Linked DNA regions of Homo sapiens. The protein of the gene in region 3 interacts with the protein of the main gene of each other region in a pairwise test. Each region holds a gene or a part of one and is shown on either strand. Other genes may lie near its edges.

What was found.
Region 1: the proteins of AEBP2 (region 3) and HMBOX1 interact in binary tests that used the Homo sapiens proteins (3 or more experiments, as listed by UniProt).
Region 2: the proteins of AEBP2 (region 3) and TSPYL2 interact in binary tests that used the Homo sapiens proteins (3 or more experiments, as listed by UniProt).

The regions. Positions count from the first base shown.
Region 1 is NC_000008.11:29,012,313-29,019,421, reverse strand, and holds part of HMBOX1 (homeobox-containing protein 1), read right to left. Parts: intron 4,388-7,109; exon of another isoform or gene 4,300-4,387; intron 663-4,299; coding exon 509-662; exon of another isoform or gene 1-508. UniProt on the Homo sapiens protein: Binds directly to 5'-TTAGGG-3' repeats in telomeric DNA. Associates with the telomerase complex at sites of active telomere processing and positively regulates telomere elongation.
Region 2 is NC_000023.11:53,078,127-53,085,434, forward strand, and holds the start of TSPYL2 (testis-specific Y-encoded-like protein 2), read left to right. Parts: upstream 1-4,240; 5' UTR 4,241-4,372; coding exon 4,373-5,179; intron 5,180-6,418; coding exon 6,419-6,496; coding exon of another isoform or gene 6,497-6,628; coding exon 6,629-6,740; intron 6,741-6,827; coding exon 6,828-6,973; intron 6,974-7,100; coding exon 7,101-7,195; intron 7,196-7,308. UniProt on the Homo sapiens protein: Part of the CASK/TBR1/TSPYL2 transcriptional complex which modulates gene expression in response to neuronal synaptic activity, probably by facilitating nucleosome assembly. May inhibit cell proliferation by inducing p53-dependent CDKN1A expression.
Region 3 is NC_000012.12:19,442,447-19,449,555, reverse strand, and holds part of AEBP2 (zinc finger protein AEBP2), read right to left. Parts: intron 6,433-7,109; exon of another isoform or gene 6,317-6,432; intron 1-6,316. UniProt on the Homo sapiens protein: Acts as an accessory subunit for the core Polycomb repressive complex 2 (PRC2), which mediates histone H3K27 (H3K27me3) trimethylation on chromatin leading to transcriptional repression of the affected target gene.

The DNA.
Region 1 (7,109 bases), on a different chromosome or scaffold from region 3:
AAAAAAAAAACCACTGAGTGCCTACTATGGATCAGGTACTGGTGACAGAATGAGAGGATAAATTACTAAAACAAAGTCAAAAATAAGTATTTTTAACCTTTGGGACAAAGCTTACTTAGACCATACTCCTTATTAAAGGAAAGTTAAATCTCAGTAGTCTCCTATACAATTATTCATTATTTTTGATGAAAAGAAGACTTCAAAGAGTTTTTCCAAAATATAATACAAAGATCTGAATTCAAAAAATATTTATTCCAACATTTCTTAAATTACTGGGGACACTATTATAAGTAAAATAAATTGACAGATGCTAACTCCAGCTTTATGAATTCTCAATGCTAAGATGACCTTATTTCTATAATACAGCATTTATGATATTCTAAAGTACTTTTAGAGATAGAACCAAGATACCAAGTTACTTGTTTGAAATGAAAACTGTCCCAGTCTATCCAGAGTTGATGTCTTCCCTAAGTTTGGGAGATCATTCGTAGAAAAAGGAGACACATACCTTTCCATAACAGCCAGGCACTCCTTTCTCCAGGTAAATCGACTCCCTCGTCGCAGTCGGAAAGTACCAGATGTGGCAGAGACTGGGGGAGGCGTTTGTCTCCATTCAGGGTCCTCTATTGGAATGGGGGCTGGTCTCATACTTAGTGTAGCGCCTGAAATAAACAAGACACTTTTAGCAAATATCTTGCAGTTTATTTAAAACAATATAACATCTACTTCCTATGGGACTAGGGAAGTATGGTCTTTGGCTTAGTGACAACTTAATCAATGTATCTTTCTCTGAAAAATTTCTTTTGAAATTCCTGCTTGATAGTTATACTCTTTTTGAACAATATACCTCAGATGTTCAGAATCTTTTACTAACCATTCAAATAAGTTATAAGCTTAAGGAATTTATGCAGGTAGGAGACAAACTTAAAATAACCCTAATTCTTGTAAACTCTTTTCTTTTTTAAAGAGTGAAATACAGCATGAAAGAAAATAAGATGATATTTGATATGCTTTTTGTCTACTAACTAAATCAGGTCTCCATAGGTCTACCTGTTGATGCTATACTAGATTCTGTTACCTCCTGAACATAATAAAATTTCAATGAAAAATATCTATAATTGAGACATTTTACTAATTCAGATTACTCTTTTCTCAAATAGCTTGAACTGCCAATGATGCATTTATTCATTCATTCACTATTTAACAAATCCCTTTCAAGTGGCTTGCTCTAGGCTAGAAGCTAAGAATAAAACCAGGAAAGCAACATTGTCTGTGACCTCCATGAACTTATTTCATAGACTTTCAATGTAACTTGGTATGCTTTCATAGAGTTCAGTCCCTGGCTACCCCACTCTTCTTTCACTCCTTACACTGTTAAATTCATCTTCCCAAAACATAATTATGATCATATCGGTCTTCTAATCAAAAACCTTCAAAAAATTCTCTCTGCCTGTAGTTTAATTCAAATGCTTAACACAGGTGTAGAAAGACATGTTAGAACATGTAGGTTTATGCAATATTAATAAATATGTTAATTCTATGTTAATGATATTAATATTTATTTCTTCCTAATAGAATTAATACTCTCTTTATTGTACCTTGCAAATAATACCATGGATAGCATTTCTACTTCAAGACTTACAGATCTATTGTAGATCCCCTTCTTAATAGCTACATCTTTAGATGTATTCTCTTACACAGATGTCCAAAATGTTAATCAATCCTGATTTTGCTTTTCAAACCTATTGTCCTGCAGTCTTTCCCATCTCAGTAAATAGATACCCACTCTTCAAACCACTCAGCTCAAAATTCTCAAATTAATCTTTCACTTCTCTAATTATCCCACCTATACATAACTAATTCATAGGCAAGTTCATTTTATCTTCAAAATATTTCCAGTATCAGATCAATTTTTATTCCTTGCACTGCTACTACTTTTAGAACACGTCAGCATCATCTTTCACAATCATGGTTTCCTGGGACAAGTTTCAAAGACGGCTCCTCACAGTAAGTCATACCTCTGGCTAATCATGCCCTTGAATCTGGGCCAGTCCTGTGACAGGTTGTTGAGCAAGAAAATCTAAACAATTCAAGGCTAGGTTATAAGATGCTTTGAAATTTCTGCCTAGGTCTCCTAAAATGCTGGCTCTGGGGGAAACCAGAGGCCATATAAGAAGTCTGACTAACCTGAGACTATGATGTTGTAAGGAAGCCCAGGATAGCCATGTGGAGAGGCTACATGGAGTGAAAGATGCTCTGACAGTCCCCAGGGTCTTCTGCCAACTCCACCCAGGTGCCAGCATTTGAGAGAAAATGCCATCTTGGACACTGTAGCCACAGCAAATGCCACATGGAGAAGTGCAGAAACCAGGTGATAGACAGAAACAAGGCCTCAGACATTCAGTCCCAGCACAGGAATGTGGACATCAACCTCCAAGGTCCCTAAGGATCCCTGCCTCCTGGTCTGCACACCTCCGTATAGTCCCTTCCCACACTGCACCATGATTAGGCTGTGCGACCAACAGCATGTGGCAGTGATGGTATGTCACTTCAAGGATCAGAATACAGAAGACACTATGACATCTGTCTTGGATGCTTTCTCTCTTATTCACTCAAGGGAAAACTAGCTGCCGTGTGAGGACACTCAGGCAGTGGATGGTGAGGCCCATGTTGTGAGGAACTGATGTCTCTGACCAACAGGCAGTGAGGACCTGGGACCTGTCCACATCCACATGAGTGAGTTTCCAAGTGGACCATCCAGTCCCAATGACTGCAGCCCAGGCTGACAGCTGGACAGCAACCTCTACAGAACTCTGAGCCAGAAACAACCAGCTAAGCCATTCCTGGATTCCTGATCTATGAAAACTATGAGATAATAAATGCTGGTTGTGTTAAGCTGCTAAATTGTGGATAATTTATTGTATAAGAATAGATAACTAATAAAAATTATCACAATCATCCTCAGTTGTTTATTTCCCTTTATCCCCCAATACACTATTATTAATTATTCAAATGTATAAATTTGGCAGCAAAAAATTTCCCTTTAATATAGAGACTTCACTACTAATAAGAATGAGCATCTTTTCCTGTTTATTGACCATTTATATCTTTTCTTGTGAATTTCTATCTGTTGTTCCTTTTTTAGGGGGTTATTCTTCTTATGGGTGCAGAGAAATCATAGCAATTGCTAGTCATACAGAATGCAATTTTTTTCTGGTCTGTCATTTGTTTTTTATAGTGTGCTTTGTGATCTTAATTTTAATACAGTCAAATTTGTCAGTCTTTTGTATTATGGCCAATGGGCTTGAATATCACTGAGTATCTTTATATCTTTCATTTTGTGTTTCAGCCTTTAATATGTATGTGATTTCTTATAGCATGTGATGGAAAGTAAATATTTAACTACTTAACATTTCTGCTTAAACAAGTAAGTTTGTCATCATATAATGCTTTAGAGATTTACAGCCCACCCTAAAACAGAGTTGGCAAATTATACCCACTGCCTATTTTTGTAAATAAAGTTTTATTGAAACATGCTCATGCTCATTCATTTACAGATTGTCTATGGCTATGAATGCACTGGAGCAGAAGAGCTGAGTAGCTATGATAGAGATCATATAACCTGCAAAACCTAAAATATTTACTGTCTGGCCCTTTATATGAAGTTTGCCAACCCCTGGTTTAAAAACATTTCTGCTCTACCCAACATGAAATTCTAAACTGAAACCCTTCTTTAAACAATTTAAAAGGGTTTCATTCTGCCAAAATAAACTGAGAATTCAGTCTGGGCCTAATTGAAAGTTAACTAAGTTTAGACATAAGCAGGAATTTGGGGGCTGGAGGGTTTCACAGTCTTATAGTGCTTTTCTGAAAACAAGTAGGGATTACAGCACAGCAAGAGCTCTGGAATCTACCTAATTAAAATTATATAAATGTTATTCTATAGCAAGGGTGAAAAGGACTAAAACAGAGCCAACCGGTTATCATGGCTGATCAAGATAAAGGTAGAAATAAGACTCAGTAAGGGAATACAACCTCTTGTCCAGGGGCTGACCCTTGTAAAGAAAGAAAGAGCTTCAGGATGGAGGGTGGGCAATAGGTCAGTGAATTCCAGGTAGTAGGCCACATCCATAATTGCGGCATGCTCCTTAGTAAGCAGAGTGGTAAATGGGTACAAATAGAACACAGAACAGAAAGAATCCTAACCAAGAGGTTGAAGGAAATAAGCCAACTAATAATAATGGTTCTTTCTTGGTATTGGGGTTTATTATTAATATTATGCTTCTTTGTAATATTCAGTATTGTCAAGACAGTCTCAAGAACTGAAGGAAATTCAGATGAAATAAAACTGGGCAGGAAGGAAAAGGAAGAGGGGAGAAGAAAAAAGGAGAAAAAGAAGACAGAAAAGTAAGTAGTGGCCTGGTTATTTTGAAAGAAATCAAGGCCGGGCGCGGTGGCTCATGCCTGTAATCCCAGCACTTTAGGAGGCTGAGGCGGGCGGAACACCTGAGGTCAGGAGTTTGAGACCAGCCTGACCAACATGGTGAAACCCTGTCTGTACTAAAAATACAAAAATTTGCTGGGTGTGGTGGCACACGCCTGTAATCCCAGCTACTCAGGAGGCCGAGGCAGGAGAATCGCTTGAACCCAGGAGGCAGAGGTTGCAGTGAGCCAAGATCGTGCCACTGCACTCCAGCCTGGGCGACAGAGTGATACTCCATCTCGGGGTGGGGGAAAAAAAAGAAATCAAGACAGTTTACACACAGAAGGTGAAAAATGAATAATCTTAAATTCATCAAAATACCTACTTTAAAACATAATGTTACATTACTTTTCAGATTTTTTTCTGGCTCCTTTTTCTTTTTCAATGTAGCAGTAGTTAAAAACAGCACAAAAAAGTACTCTGGAAACACTCTATTAATAACAGATTTGTTCTGGAAACCTTAGTTCATCTTGCTTTGGTTGAAATGGATGAAAAGCAAGAGCGAGTTCAAAATTACTGACTCTAACAGAAAAACACAAAGACACTAGAATGCAGGAACAATGTATTTAAGCCTTTAAACTCCTCTGAAGTAAAATACAGGAATTCTGGGTTGGCTAAGGTCCTAACAGGAAAAGTGTGTTGTCTATTTCCTTACAGAAATCTTTTTTCCCCCCATCTAAGTTTCCATTAAAACAAAATTTTGCACCTTCACCTAGCAAATCTAAACCCATGAGGAAAAAAAAAACCCAAAACTCTTTTCATAACTTGTTAAGACATATAAAAATTTGGTAAGTGTTCTCTTTACATATATCATAATGTCCTTGCTGATCAGGGTTAGCTCTGGGTGAGGGGACTATAAGCACATCATTACTACGCCATCCATAGGAACTAACCTCTCCAAAAGTAATTTCACATCTTCCCCCATGTCACACACGTTTCCCTGAGATCTAACACTCTGCAAGTGAAGGACTGGATGTTTCTTCTGATGACATTTATCTCATGTATTTGCTGCATAACCCTCTTGGCAAATTTTATTTAATTGTTTAGAAGCATGCAGAATATGCACCACATGCCAAGAGGAACTCAGCAAACCCTGTCTGCTATAGTAATGTTTAAATTAGACAAGGGAAAAAGACTGTGAACTTAATTTGATTAAATAAAGGGACTTTTGATGTCAACCATCCTGAATTTAGCACTCACTTTTTTTTAAAAAATAGGTATTTTCTTATAAGTGTTTTCATAAGAAACAAGATAAAATGTATTTGATTAGTTTCCATCAGCCTATTTTATTAATATGCCTTGGCAGGCTTTCATTTATGCTGGTAAATTCTGATGATGAGTCTGTTATCAGAGAACTACACTATATCAATCGGGTTATCAGTAAAATTAACCTAAATATCCATTCTATTATTTTTCTTGATGAGTCCACTTAAAGAGAAACTTACAAAAAACCAAAAGCCATATACAACTGGATCCAGACTGAAGAGGTTGAAAAAAAGAACTTCCGCTGGGTGCGGTGGCTCATGCCTATAATCCCAGCACTTTGGAAAGCCGAGGTGGGTGGATCACGAGGTCAGGAGTTCAAGACCAGCCTGGCCAACATGGTGAAACCCCATCTCTACTAAAAACACAAAAATCAGCTGGGCGTGGCGGCACGTGCCTGTAATCCCAGCTACTCCTGAGGCTGAGGCAGGAGAATTGCTTGAACCCGAAAGGCAGAAGTTGCAGTGAGCCAAGATTGCGCCACTGCACTCCAGCCTGGTGGCAGAGCTAGACTCTGTCTCAACAACAACAACAAAAGGACTTCACTCAAAGTATACAAAGAGAAATGCTCCAACGCCCAGGAATAGAGTCATAGAATATACAAACATTTTTGTTTTCTAAATGCTTAAATTTACAGAAGAAAAAAGAAAAAGTAGTTTTTCATTTTGTGACTTTTCTTAATTTTGCATTTTCTTCTCAGAATATATGTAAAGGGATCACACTATTTACATTTACCCTAAAGAGCTATCTTTCCTAGACAGAAAAAAAAATTATGAAATAAAAGAATTACTTGATAAAAATCACTGACAACTTATTTTCTACCTGCTTCTCAAAAGCAGGTCTGGACTGTATAAACCTAAGTTTTTCTTCCTTTTCTTTCTTTCTTTTTAATCTTACAAGGCAGATTGATTTCTTTTGGTCTGTCTCCCCCTTCCTATTACACTTTATTTTTCAAATATATAATACAAGTACATAGTATGAAATTTAGAAAGACACATTAGGCTGTGTAGTTAACTCCTTACCCCTGTACTCCCAGTCACTCAGTTCCCCTCCACAGAGCTATTCTTCCCAGTTCCTAACACAGCTTTTCAGAGATTTCTATGCTTAGATAAGCATATACATGTGTATGTGTGTGTGTTCCCCTACATAAATATGCCCTTGATACTGTTATGTACCTTTTTTACTTATGAATTCCATATCACCTCATATAAATTTAATTCATATAAAGCTGCCTTCAAAAAGTAGTTATATGGCTCCATAAGATTCCATTGTACAGATGTGCCATTAATTTATTTAACCAGTTCTCAACTGAGGGACATCTGGGTGGATTCCAATCAGGTCTGAAATGACTTGCAATGAAGGA
Region 2 (7,308 bases), on a different chromosome or scaffold from region 3:
CTTTAATGTCTCTCCTTCTGACACTGTCCAGAAGGGGGAATTTGTCCTGTAAAATAGACTTCCAGAGCTCTTTTGCCCCCTCTGCTCCCATGCACCCTCCCCTTCCAAGTCCTTTAGCAAGGCCTGGATGTTTAGGGAGAAAGTGGTCCAAGGCTGCTGACAAGAGGGACCAAAGGGGGTGCTGGGTTCCCAGGGAGCAGGGATGTTTAATTACTATGTCATGTGCAATGTTGTTTTAGGCCAACCCTTGCCCCAAGCCCAGTCTCTTCTCCCTCCCCACCATGTCCAGACCTCCCAAATGGTTCTTGTGCATCTGTTGGAGAAGTCAAGGGAGTAGGGAGAAGGGCCCCAAGGATGGGCCCAGGTTAGGTGAAGAGTAAGATGTGAGCTGAACTCCTCGAACTGAAGAGACCCACACTTGGTCACATTCTCTCACGCTGCCTTCAGGATCCCCAGCCCCCAACTCTTCTTCCTGAGGATGGAAATCCACTCCAGCCCCACTAGGACTGATGTGGGTGCCATACAGGCAGGAGCAGCCCACCAGGAAAGTGTAAGGAGGGAGCTGAACTCCCCAGAGTAGCTGGACCACAGAGACTTGGGTCAGAGCTGATTTCAACCCCAGAATTGTCTCTCGGGTTCACCCTACTCTTCTGAAGATGAAAATTTGTTTGGGGCCTTGGTAACCGATAGCGGTACAAACTCCAAGGCACTGTGGACTTGAGTCCATTCCTATCTGACCTCTTTTTGTCCCCCTCAAGCCTCAGGGGCCTCAAGCCCCTCCTTAGTAGCCCTTGGCTGACTGGGCCCTGAGCCCCAAGCATCCTTCTTTCCCAACAACCCTCCTTCCCCATCCTTCCCCCACCCTTACCTACACCCAAAGTGGAGCACACTGCAGTCAGATTCTCCAGGAGGGAGATCCAAGCCTCCTCCCAGGGGTGGAGTCCACTCTGGGCTTACTTTGAGGCCTGTTCTGTGGATTGGTGAGCCAAGCTGGCACTCCTTGCCCTGGTCTTACCCAGGCTCTCTGTCCCCCTCTCACTTCCTGTGGGGCCGGAATCTGTATTTATCCATCCCCCTTTCCCTTCTTTATAGAAGTCCCTGTCCTAAACTCCCTCCCTAGCCCAAGAGAGCCCCAGAACTGGGGAAGCCTGACCCATACAGAATGGGGAGGGCACTCTAGGCAGGAGAGACATTAATGAGCCTGGCTGCAGAGTGGCCCTGGAAAGGCAGGCCAGAGTGGCTGAGAGGCTGGGAGTAGGGGAGCCTGTTCTCTCAGCGATAGTGATGGGGGTGCCTTTCCGAGGGGGTGGGGTGGGAAGACCAAGGGGGTGGGGGGTAGATAGGGTACATTTAGGAGGGTTTTCCTCCATTTCTTTTTTCTAACTGCCTGGATTCACCATTGGATTTTGTAAATGGAAAAACTGAAATGAACAATGCTATACTGGATGTTTTCTCTTTCTGACTGTGTGTGTGTGTGTGCGTGCGTGCGTGCATGTGCCCTGTCTGACCACATGTGGAGAGACATGATTGAGTGATAGTGTGTGTCTGTGTGACTTTGTGTGGGGAGGCACTCCTGAAGAAAACTTGCCCGGTGCACACACGTAAAATGCCTGTATATGGGGACAGATACAGCACGTGCATGCATACACACACACACACACACACCACAGTTGAGAGGAGACAAACTAGAGTATGTGCCCGTGGTAGGAAGTCGAGTGGTCAAGAGATGGATCTTGGAAACTACATAGGTCGGTAGCAAGAGGGTAGACTCCCATCTCACAAGATGGGCCTCCCTTGGCCCAGGCCCTGAGCACGGGAGGGCTGGGGCCGCCAGGGAACTTGAAAACCTCATCTCCTCACAAAGCCTGTAGCCCCATCTCAACCCCGTCTCAGTCTCCTTCCCAAACTCAAACAAGGTGTTCCTAAAATTGGACCACCATGGAGAATGGGGACTGGGAATTGAGGATCAAATGTGAGGGAAACTGATGAGGTTAGGAAATGCCCCCCACAAAGTAATGGCTTCTGGAGGGACTGCTCAGTCTGGGATGGGAGCCCTTCCTAGGGGCCACTGTATGCAGCTGGGACTTTGGTCAGCTTTGACCAAATTTAGAGGGAGGGATGTCATGGGGAAAAAAAACCCAAGCCCAGGAGTCTACCCAGCCAGCCTGCTCCCTAGACAGTTAATTTACTATCTGGTTATTCTCTCAGGTGCACAGAATTGAGTTGACCATACTCCTCAGTTCTTGGCACACTATATCATCATTGGTCCATGTGAGGCCCTTTTATTTTTTTTTCTTCAGTTTTGTCCCCTTCATCACCCATTCCTGATCCCATCCTCCCCGCCCCCTACACAGGCACCCACTCTCGTGTATTTAACGTACGTCCTTCCAATCCACCGTTCATGTGTTTATTTACATATATGTGTATCTGTGAAAAATGTATGGTATTGCTGTGTGTTTTAATTTACATAAACAGTATTGTACTATAAATCTTGTTGTTTCTTTTTTCACTCAACATTCTGTCTTTGAGAGATCCAGCCATGTTGCCGTATATAGATCTAATTCATTCTAGTGGTCCATCTAAAACATATATCACATTTTTCTTATCCACTCCCCTGATGATGGATCCCTAGGTCTCCTCTCTGCTCCGCGACAAGGCTGCAATGGGCAGTTACCTACACCTCTCTTGAGGGATGCCTAATTTAGGGGAGAGAAAACTGAAGCTCAGAGAGGGGCAGTGATTTGGTTAAGGTTACAAAATGAGGGGCACACCCATGATGTGAATCCCAGCACCAAAGCCAGCCCTCCACCACCATGCCTCACAAAAGACCATCCATCTCTGGTTTAAAAAGAAAAATCTTAAAATACAGCATACACTGGGGAAAGGGAGAGGAAAGGATGGAAAGGGGGAGAAATGAAGAGACAGAAAGTGCTAGAAAATTCTAGCAGATGAGCTGAATCACAATCATTTTTATGACGCAGAGGAAGTTACTTTTTTGTGTGTGTGATTATTATTTGTAGAGCCATTTTGCGGAGATGGAAAACGCCACGTCAAAACCTGGCCCCCAAACCAAACACCCTGGGTGCCTAAATTGCAGGCGCAGGCGGTAGGGCAGCCCGAGCCCCCGAGGAGCTACAGCAGAGTTCACCCAGGGGGCAAACGTGGGGGGTGGGGGAAGGGGCAGAAGTGGAAGGTAGGAAAAGAGGCAGAAGCGGGGGGGCGGGGGGCAGGGGTTGTGTGAGGGAAGGGGCAGAAGTTGGGGGATAGGGGAAGGGCAGAAGCGGAGGGCGGGAGGGTGAGGGAAGGGGCAGAAGTGGGGTTGGGGGGTGAAGGAAGGGGCAGAAGTTGGGGGATAGGGGAAGGGGCAGAAGTGGGGGTGAGGGAAGAGACAGTTGGGGGATGGGGGTCAGAAGCAGGGAATGCGGGAAGGGGCAGAAGGGGGGGTGAGGGAAGGGGCAGAAGCGGGGGAGGAAGGGGCAGAAGCGGGGGGTGAAGGGGCAGAAGCGGGGGTGGGGTGGGGGAAGGGGCCGAAGCGGGGGATGGGGGAAGGGGCAGAAACGGGGGGTGGGGGAAGGGACAGAAACGGGGAGTGGAGGAAGGGGCAGAAGCGGGGATGGAAAAAGGGGCAGCAGTGGGGGATGGGAGAAGGGGCAGAAGCGGGGGTGGGAGAAGGGGCAGGAGCTGGGATGGGGGAAGGGGCAGGACCCGGGATGGGGGAAGGGGCAGAAGCGGGGGTGGGGGAAGGAGCTGAAGGAAATGGGGGAAGGGGCAGATTTTAAAAGTGCGTAGTTGCTGAGGGGAGGGGGGCGGGGGGAACGATAACGAGGCTCTTCCAATTTCATGTGAGCACATCCTGCTCAGCGCCTGCGTTTGTTTTTCGTCTCGTTTTTTGGTCTTCAGAACCACTGGTACTTTTCCCATTGGATAAAACGCTGAGAGGGTGAGGGAGAGGGGCTTCTTCCCCAGCTTTCCTCGCAGCCAATCGCCCTGCAGTTTCCCTCCCGTCGCTGAGGGAGTCAGCCCGTTGATTGGCGGGCCCGAGGGGAGCCAATCGGAAACTGATGATGTGTGGTGTTGGCAAGCGGATTGCGTGAGAGCGGGCAGGGGTCGCGGGAGCGCGATCGCCGCCGCGGCGGCCGGCAGCCAATGGCCAGGCCGAGCGGACCCCTGCGTCAGGAGTGGGCGGGGCTTCGGCGATTGGCGCGGAGGGAGTAGAGCGGGCGCTGTGGGAGGGAACGCCAGAGCGAGGTGGTGAGGAGAGCTGGTTGCGTGAGTCTCCTCAGCTCTGCTTACCGGTGCGACTAGCGGCAGCGACGCGGCTAAAAGCGAAGGGGCGAGTGCGAGTCCCCTGAGCTGTACGAACGCGGTCGCCATGGACCGCCCAGATGAGGGGCCTCCGGCCAAGACCCGCCGCCTGAGCAGCTCCGAGTCTCCACAGCGCGACCCGCCCCCGCCGCCGCCGCCGCCGCCGCTCCTCCGACTGCCGCTGCCTCCACCCCAGCAGCGCCCGAGGCTCCAGGAGGAAACGGAGGCGGCACAGGTGCTGGCCGATATGAGGGGGGTGGGACTGGGCCCCGCGCTGCCCCCGCCGCCTCCCTATGTCATTCTCGAGGAGGGGGGGATCCGCGCATACTTCACGCTCGGTGCTGAGTGTCCCGGCTGGGATTCTACCATCGAGTCGGGGTATGGGGAGGCGCCCCCGCCCACGGAGAGCCTGGAAGCACTCCCCACTCCTGAGGCCTCGGGGGGGAGCCTGGAAATCGATTTTCAGGTTGTACAGTCGAGCAGTTTTGGTGGAGAGGGGGCCCTAGAAACCTGTAGCGCAGTGGGGTGGGCGCCCCAGAGGTTAGTTGACCCGAAGAGCAAGGAAGAGGCGATCATCATAGTGGAGGATGAGGATGAGGATGAGCGGGAGAGTATGAGGAGCAGCAGGAGGCGGCGGCGGCGGCGGAGGAGGAAGCAGAGGAAGGTGAAGAGGGAAAGCAGAGAGAGAAATGCCGAGAGGATGGAGAGCATCCTGCAGGCACTGGAGGATATTCAGCTGGATCTGGAGGCAGTGAACATCAAGGCAGGCAAAGCCTTCCTGCGTCTCAAGCGCAAGTTCATCCAGATGCGAAGACCCTTCCTGGAGCGCAGAGACCTCATCATCCAGCATATCCCAGGCTTCTGGGTCAAAGCAGTATCCTTCTAATCGATACTCCGTAGGTCAGAAGCCCGTGACAGGAAAGGGGAAGGTGGGGGAGGGACAGAAAAGGTAAAGCGGGTGGAGGAGAGCCAGAGGTGGGCATGATCCCCCTATCGGAAGACGGACTAGACTGGGTGGAAGAGGGATGGAAGGAGGAGGGCAAAACAGCAGAGAAGCTGGACTGGAGATGATGAAGGGTGGTGGAGGGGGGGCGGACATAAAAACTGGACCACAGATGGGAAAGGGGGAAGAGGAGGAACATAGCATTAAAAAAAGGATCACAGATGATAAAAAGGGGGAGGGTAGTAAAGGGGCACACAGCAAAAAAATTGGACCAGAGATGGTGAAAGGAGGAGGGGAGGGGCACGTAGAAGATGAACTGACTCAGAGACCTTGAAGAGGGAGGGGAATGGCACACAGCAGAGAAACTGCCCAGAAAGGGTGCTTGAGCCATACAAGGCTCTGTAAACCTAGATTTTTGCTTAAGATACTAGGAGACCCCAATCCTGGCTGGAGTGCCTTGCATTGGAGGGAGGGGGGCTGGAGCCCCTGAAAGATCAAGAGAGGGAGTGTCTAGGTATAGAGAAAAAGGAGTTAAATGAAGGAAAGGGGAGAGTAGACACATACACATACATGTAACATGTTAGGAACATGAGTCGAACATCCTAATAGAATTATGTGGATACAGACCCTTAGCCCTCATATGAAACAGCACATGGTAAGAGGCCCTTAGCACCCAGGCATACAATATCATTTAGACATAGGACCTCAGCTCCTAGACACAGTATTATGTGACCACAGGTCCTCAGCATGTAGACACATGGCATAACTTGACCACAAGCCATCAGAGCCATTCACACATCATGTGGACATGGACCTTCAACACCCATACATACAATAACGTGACCACAGGCCCTCAGCAATCAGTTACAGCATCACTTGGACATGGCCCTTAAGCCCCCAGACGTGCATTTTGTGAACACAAGCTTTCAGCACCCAGTGACATATACCACATGCACATGGATTGTCGACACCCTGTAGGGCCACCTAACATAGAGGTTTATCATGGGAATAAGTATGGGTTATGTCCCATGACTCACTTGCTTTATACACACCACATAAGCACAGAAGGAATCCTCATGCTCCAGCCTCTCTTACTGTGCCCTTCCTGGCCTTCCCTCCCTCCCTTTCACGGAATAGTCAATCCTTGACCTAAACTGCTCCACTCATCAGTTCCTCAACCACCCCAGAATTTCAATTTTGATCAACCGACGTGATGAAGACATTTTCCGCTACTTGACCAATCTGCAGGTCAGGCCAGAGAGACATTTTTTAGTAGGATCGGGCACGAATCTGGTTCTTGGAGGTGACGGGAGGTGGGTGGGAAGGGCCGTGGTGTGTTGGGGGGGGGACAGATTCCACCATCACCCCCACCTGGAGCAGGTACAGGATCTCAGACATATCTCCATGGGCTACAAAATGAAGCTGTACTTCCAGACTAACCCCTACTTCACAAACATGGTGATTGTCAAGGAGTTCCAGCGCAACCGCTCAGGTAAGTGGCAGTACCAGAGTAAATCCATGTTCCCCCCCTCAATCTGTCCTTGTTTTGTCCCATCTCCATAGCCTTCTCTCTCCCTAGGCCGGCTGGTGTCTCACTCAACCCCAATCCGCTGGCACCGGGGCCAGGAACCCCAGGCCCGTCGTCACGGGAACCAGGATGCGAGCCACAGCTTTTTCAGCTGGTTCTCAAACCATAGCCTCCCAGAGGCTGACAGGATTGCTGAGGTGGGGCCCTTCCTGGCATCACCAGAGAAGGCCTTGCTAGGCTTGTTCCTGGGTGCGTGGGGAATTAAGAGGAGGATCTGGAGCTTGTACTAATGGCTGTCTTATTCCTTCTCCCCTTTTTCAACAGATTATCAAGAATGATCTGTGGGTTAACCCTCTACGCTACTACCTGAGAGAAAGGGGCTCCAGGATAAAGAGAAAGAAGCAAGAAATGAAGAAACGGTAATGGGAGTTTGGTCGCTGAGAGGTGGTTTGTTGGGGATGGGGAAAAGACTAGTGTAACACAGGATTTATGGAGCCAAAAAGGGACCTTTGAGATAATCCCAGTGGAATAT
Region 3 (7,109 bases):
TTATGCAACAATGATGAAATATAGTCTATGGAAAACAAGTAGGCTACATTCTTTTATCACCACTACGCACTGAGCACATTACTTTAAATTTCTCATATCAAATCTATCACCCTTTAAGATTACTTCACCCACATTTTTCATCCAGCTTAAAATATCAGCCAGCAATTGATATCTTCACAAACACTAGAAACATTCCACTTCAACACAATTACACTAAGGAAGTTATCTTTACCTTTTCACAAACATTTCCAGAGAAATGTATATACACAAAGATGGTATGTTTAAAAAAAGAAATCCACTATGAAGAACACCCCCCATTTAATAAAGAAGCAATTGCATCTGAAGGTTTAATTAGTATTAAATCATAAAAAGATCTTTCCTAAGGAAATTTTGAGGAAAAATATCAGATGATTTCAGTATGCATTTCTGACAAGAATGACTACTGTCATTCTTGACTGAACACCTCAAAACACATGTTGATATAACAATTTCCAAGATTAATTTAAAACACTAAAAAATCTATTGCCAATTCATCTACTCTTTGTACTTTAAAAAATATTTATGAAAAGTAATGATGGCCAGGTGTGGTGGCTCACACCTGTAATCCCTGCACTTTGGGAGGCCAAGGTGGGAGGACTGCTTGAGCTCAGGGGTTCGAGACCAGCCTGGGCAACACACGGAGACCCCATCTCTACAAAAAATGAAAAAAGCAGCTGGGCATGGTAGTGCATGCCTGTAGCTCCAGCTATTTGGAAGGCTGAGGCAGGACAGTCACTTGGGTCCAGGAGTTTGAGGCTGCAGTGAGCTGTGACGGTACCACTGCACTCCAGCCTGAGTGACAGAGCAAGACCCTGTCTCGAAGTACAAACAAAACAAAAAAAAACTGTTCTCTTTTTCTTTAATCAGCCACACTAATGAAACTGAGAAAGAAATATGCAATCAGGTATTTCCACATTAAGTTGAATTCAACCAATTACTGAGAATGAATACAGGCTACGACATACTGAGTGAGTGCAGAAGGCAAGTTCTGCAAGTATATATGAGACCTGATCTTTACTTTTTTTTTTTTTTGAGATGGAGTCTTGCTCTGTTGCCCAGGCTGGAGCACAATGGCACGATCTCAGATCACTGCAACCTCCACCTCCCGGGTTCAAGCTATTCTCCTGCCTCAGCCTCCCAAGTAGCTGGGATTACAGGCATGCGCCTAATTTTTGTATTTTTACTACGGATGTGAGCCACCATGTCCGGCCTGATCTTTACTTTTAAAATGTTATAGCCTAGAGGAAATAAACACAAATGGATATTTCAATACAACATCATAAATATGAAGTAGAAATATGATGACTTCTGGCAAGGCACAGTGGCTCACGCCTGTAATCCCAGCACTTTGGGAGGTCAAGCAGAGAGAATCACTGGAGCCCAAGAGTTGAAAACCAGTCTCGGCAACATAGCAAGACCTAGTCTCCATTTTCAAAAATAAAAAAATGTTTTAAAAAGAAATATGGTGATTTTTAAACCCAAAAGAACCTACCTAAGATATCCTTGAGATCCTGGATATAACAAAGCCACACACGGCAATATTCCGAGTTTGTCTAAAGAAGATAATCCATTATCTATTTGTTTAACTGTATTTAAAGTACTTGCCAACTCTACAGCAGCACCCTCGCATTCGAGCTCCAAATTACTTTATACTGTTTTGTCAAAAACCCTCATTTTTAAGAAAAAGAATCAATCTGAGCTTCACAGAAATAAACAATTTGCCACATTTCCTGACGGCAATAAAGTCAAGACTACAATACTGATCGCTTATCCTCAGCTGGAGTATTCTTTCCACTGCACCATCTCTGCATGAGAAATGGGGATATATAAATGACTCTACGAAGTAAATACGTAACCCCTTTGCATGTCATCTCACTTAATCCTAACACTGCTCCTATTTTACAGATAAGGAAGCAACTTCTGAGAAGTTAGATTACGTCCATGCTCTTTCACTACTCAATGTTCCTTTAGTTATTCTAGTGACGGTTGTGTCTGGAAAAACAATGCAAACTATTGTTCAAATTAAATCCTCAAGAAAACGTATTCAGAAATAACGTTTACATAGCCAGGTGCTACAGATAAAGTGCCAATCAAGATAGACATGGTTTTTCTTCTCAGGGAGCACACAACCCAGCAGTGGAGATAAATGGTAAACAATTACCCATATTGGGGTGAGGGCAAGAAAGAACTCGGAATGCTGACAATATGTCTAACAAGGAACCAGCCTGTTCAACGTAAGACTTGAATGTGAACTAGGGAATTACACAGAAAGAAAGTGAAGAGAATAAAAAGAATTTGATTCACAAACCTATACTGAGAGACGTACACACTTGTGTTGGCATGAAAGGCCTCACTTGCACCATTAATTCTTACTTCCCAGGTCCAGTGGCGCATCCTTAGATGTTGGCAGGAAGTCTCCTGAACATGCTACGCTCATTCCTGCCTACATGTTTTCAGTTAGGCTTTCTAGAATTCTCTCTTCATCATTTACGCAAGCCTAAAATCTGTCCCCCTTCCCACACAAAATCTTTAGTCACTAACTATACAACACGTTCCAACTCTAATTTTTTTGTTTTTTTGTTTTTTTGTTTTTTGTGAGAGTCTTGCTGTCACCCAGGTTTGACTACAGTGGCACAATCACAGCTCACTGCAGCCTCAGACTCCTGGATCCAAGTGATCCTCCTGCCTCAGCCTTTCAAGTAGCTAGGAATTGAGGCATGTGACACCACATCTGGCTAATTTTTTCATTTTTTGTAGATGAGATCTTTTTTTTTTTTTTTTTTTGGAAACGGAGTCTCGCTCTGTCGCCCAGGCTGGAGTGCAGTGGCGCAAACTCTGCTCACTGCAAGCTCCGCCTCCTGGGTTCACGCCGTTCTCCTGCCTCAGTCTCCCAAGTAGCTGGGACTACAGGTGCCCGCCACCACGCCCAGCTAATTTTTTTCTGTATTTTTAGTAGAGACGGGGTTTCACCGTGTTAGCCAGGATGGTCTTGATCTCCTGACCTTGTGATCTGCCTGCTTCAGCCTCCAAAAGTGCTGGGATTACAGGCGTGAGCTACCGTGTCCCGCCTGTAGATGGGATCTTGTTACACTGTCCTGGCTGGTCTCGAACCCCTAGGCTCAAGGGATCCTCCCACCTTGGCCTTCCAAAGTGCAGGGATGACAGGTGTGAGTAACCATACCTGCCTCCAGTTCTAATTTGAATGCACCATGTCGCAATTTACAGAAAAAACAGAATACAATAATCTCTTTAGCCTGCTCTTTAAAAACAAAGTATCTGAGGAGATACCGTCATGTTTCTTATCACTAAATGGGGCGCAATGGGTCTTAGTATTTAAGACCAATATAATTACTACTTTCACAAATACAAACTATTCATCGCAAAAATAAATTAATCATAGGTTAGACCACTGCCATTACTAGAAAACTTATTCCAAAACTTTTTACCAATAGATAACTGGCATGCTTGCTTCAGCAACATATATGATAAACTTGGAACAATACAGAGAAAATGAGCATGGCCCCTGCACAAGGATGACATGCAAATTCATGAAGCATTCCATTTCTTTTCTAATTGTTTTTAATATGTACGTTCAGCTAGTTATCGTCCAAAAAAAAGAAAGCTAGTTATATTTTTTTATAACTAGCTGCACGTACATATTAAAAACAATTTAAAATGAAAGGTTTCATATGAAGGCTTTTAGGCCCACCACAGAACAGTCATAGAAAACTGATTAAAATGTACATGCTGTAATCAAATATTTTAGTCTACCATATCCTTTTGCAAATTTCTGCAACACTCATTTGCAGACTCTTGTCATACATCTAACACCTGATTGATACAGTACTTTTGGGCATTCCAGATCGTACAGCACTTCACAATAACAGACGTTACTAGCTATTATCAATTCATTTGTGCAGTGATTCTCTCTGCCACTCATGAGGTAAGGGTTTTGTTTTATACCCTGCTGTATCCCCAGCATTTAGAAGAGTACCTGGCATGAGGCCGGGCACGGTGGCTCATGCCCATAATCCCGGCACTTTGGGAGGCCGAGGCAAGCGGATCATTTGAGGTCAAGAGTTTGAGACCAGCCTGGCCAACATGGTGCAACCCTCTCTACTAAAAATACAAAAAAAAAAAAAAAAAGAAAACGAGCAGGGCACGGTGGCATGCGCCTGTAATCCCAGATACTCAGGAGGCTGAGGCAGGAGAATTGCTTGAACCCGGGAGGCAGAGGCTGCCGTGAGCCAAGATCGCACCACTGCACTCCAGCCTGGGTGACAGAGTGAGACCCTATATCAAAAAAAATAAAGCATCTGTCACATAACATGGATTCTATATACATCTGTAGAATATACCCATCACACAGTAAACACTTAATGAACGTGTACCAAATACTCTACAATTCACATTGCAATCTTACAGGATAGGAACCATTATTGTCCCCCTTTCATAGACAAGAGACCTCAAGTAGTAAGACGTTAAATAAATACTACTGTTGGGCCAGGTGCCTGTGGTCCCAGCTACTCAGGAGGCAGAGGCTGCAGTGAGCTGAGATCGCGCCACTGCACTCCAGCCTGCGTGACAGAGCAAGACTCTGTCTCAAAATAAATACATAAATGCATACATACATACTACTGTTGGTATTCTCAATTTAATGCTAGTAATTAATGGAGTATTCACCACACCCAAGATATTATGTTAGGTACTTACAAAGATACTAAAAAAGCAAAAATGTCCCTGCCCTCCAAAATACCATTCTACAACAGAAAAGATGCACGCATTCAAGCAACGTGGATGGATTCCTCCAAACAGTTCACAGCGCTCTTTAACAGAAATTATTTCACTTGAACCACAAAACAACACTTCAGAGTAATACCTGTTTTGTAGTTGAGGAACTAAAGTTCAAAGATATACTACTCAAAAATTGAAATATAGGCAGTAATATTAAGATTTGCGCCAGGTCTGGTGGTTCATGCTCAGGCTAGTCTCCTGACCTCATGTGATCTGCCCTCCTCGGCCTCCCAAAGTGCTGGAATCACAGGTGTGGGCCACATGCCTGGCCAAGAGTACTTTCATATATTAACTGATTCAATAGCTAGTACTAATTTGTTAACTAACTCCACGGGCATTTTAAATATTAAAATTCCATTTAAAAGCTAATTTACTACTTGAACTTGAGACTGTCTTCTATTTTCTCGGCATTAACTTTTTTAGCATAAATACACGTTCAGTAACAAGTGCTGACATTTGATCACTTTTTGGATGACTCATTCATTCAACCATATTTTAAACTATTTTTACATGATACTGTGTTGGAAGAATGAAAATAAAATTATGTTTAAAATTTTTTAAATTTTTTTTAAAGTTACCATAGCCTCTGAAATTAACCTAAGAGCATAACTTTTTTAAAAAGTACTTCAGCTTCACTGAAGAGAAAAAAAGTTCAGAGTAAAGAAAAGCTAGTTTTTAGCGGTTTCACATAGCTAAATACTTCTCCCTACTATCTTTATAACCAAAATACTTCTCCCTACTATCTTTATAACCAAAGTAAAAATAAAATTACATATAAATTTCAAGAATTTCTAAATTTACTAAAATAAACACGCTATAAACTTACACTGGTTTTGAAAAACTTTCTTCTGGGGGGAAAAAAATCAACTTTTTGTACCAAGTGGTATTTAATCATTTCATAAATTAGTCACTTTTTACCACAAAACCTTCCAATACCATAAATGACATCTCAGGTCATAACCTCTAATATCTATGTCTTTATATTTAATTATCTTTTTTTGAGATGGAGTCTTGCTCTGTCGCCCACGCTGGAGTGCAGTGGTGCAATCTCAGCTCACTGTAACCTCCGCCTCCCAGATTCAAGCCATTCTCCTGCCCCAGCCTCCTGAGTAGCTGGGATTACATGCCTGCACCACCATGCCTGGCTCATTTTTTTGTATTTTTAGTAGAGATGGGGTTTCACCATGTTGTCCAGGCTGGTCTTGGAATTCCTTGACCTCAAATGATCCACCCGACTCGGCCTCCCAAAGTGCTGGGATTACAGGGGTGAGCCACCATGCCCGGCCTAATTATCTTTTTAAAAGTAGCACTTAAGATATTTAACATGGCCTGCGGTGGCGGCTCACTCCTGTAATCCCAGCACTTTGGAAGACCCAGGTGGGAGGATCATTTGAGGTCAAGGAATTTCAAGACCAGCCTGGACAACATGGTGAAATCGCATCTCTACTAAAAACAAAAATTAGCCAGGGGTGGTGGCACTCACCTGTAATCCCAGTTACTCAGGAGGCTGAGGAAGGAGAATCGCTTGAACCCACAAGGCAGAGGTTGCAGTGAGCCGAGATCGTACCACTGCACTCCAGCCTGGGCGATAGAGTGAGACTCGTCTCAAAAAAAAAAAAGAAAAAGATATTTAACAAAGATGTTCAACAAATTCTAGAGCATATCAGATAAACTAAAAAGCACAACGTAACCAAAACGATGGGAAAGGTAAATGGGCATTATAATAGAATCTTTGTAATAGGAATGCCTAAAAATGTTATAGAGCACTTTAAAACTAAGATTATCCTTCCACTGGTTACAAAAATGAAGTTTTCTTACCATGAAATCAACCTATAAAATCCACAGATTGATGTAATCTACAGTAATTTATAAGAATTAGGGATCCTTTCCAAACTCAAAATAACTGGGAGAAAAATCTCAAAGGCAACAAGAAGATGTTTCAGAATTAAGATTATTAAGACCCCAAGCCAGTTTCACTAGTAAGCCTTCTTCATACAAGTGACAAATCTATTACCCTGAAATGGTGACATTAAAAACAGTATTCTGTAGTCTCTAAAATTAAGCATTAAGAAAACCAAGTTTGCTTGGTTATCAAGTTTTAACTGTAGTTGGATTTGTGACACCCGTATTTTACTTCTTATTCTGAAATAAGATGTAAAAATTATATACTCAAGTAAATATCTCATTAATGTCAAATAAAAGCCACAACTCCACTTCCTAAATGTACTTAACCAATAATTCGTCTCCTGAAGTGATGTAGTAAATGGACACTAACT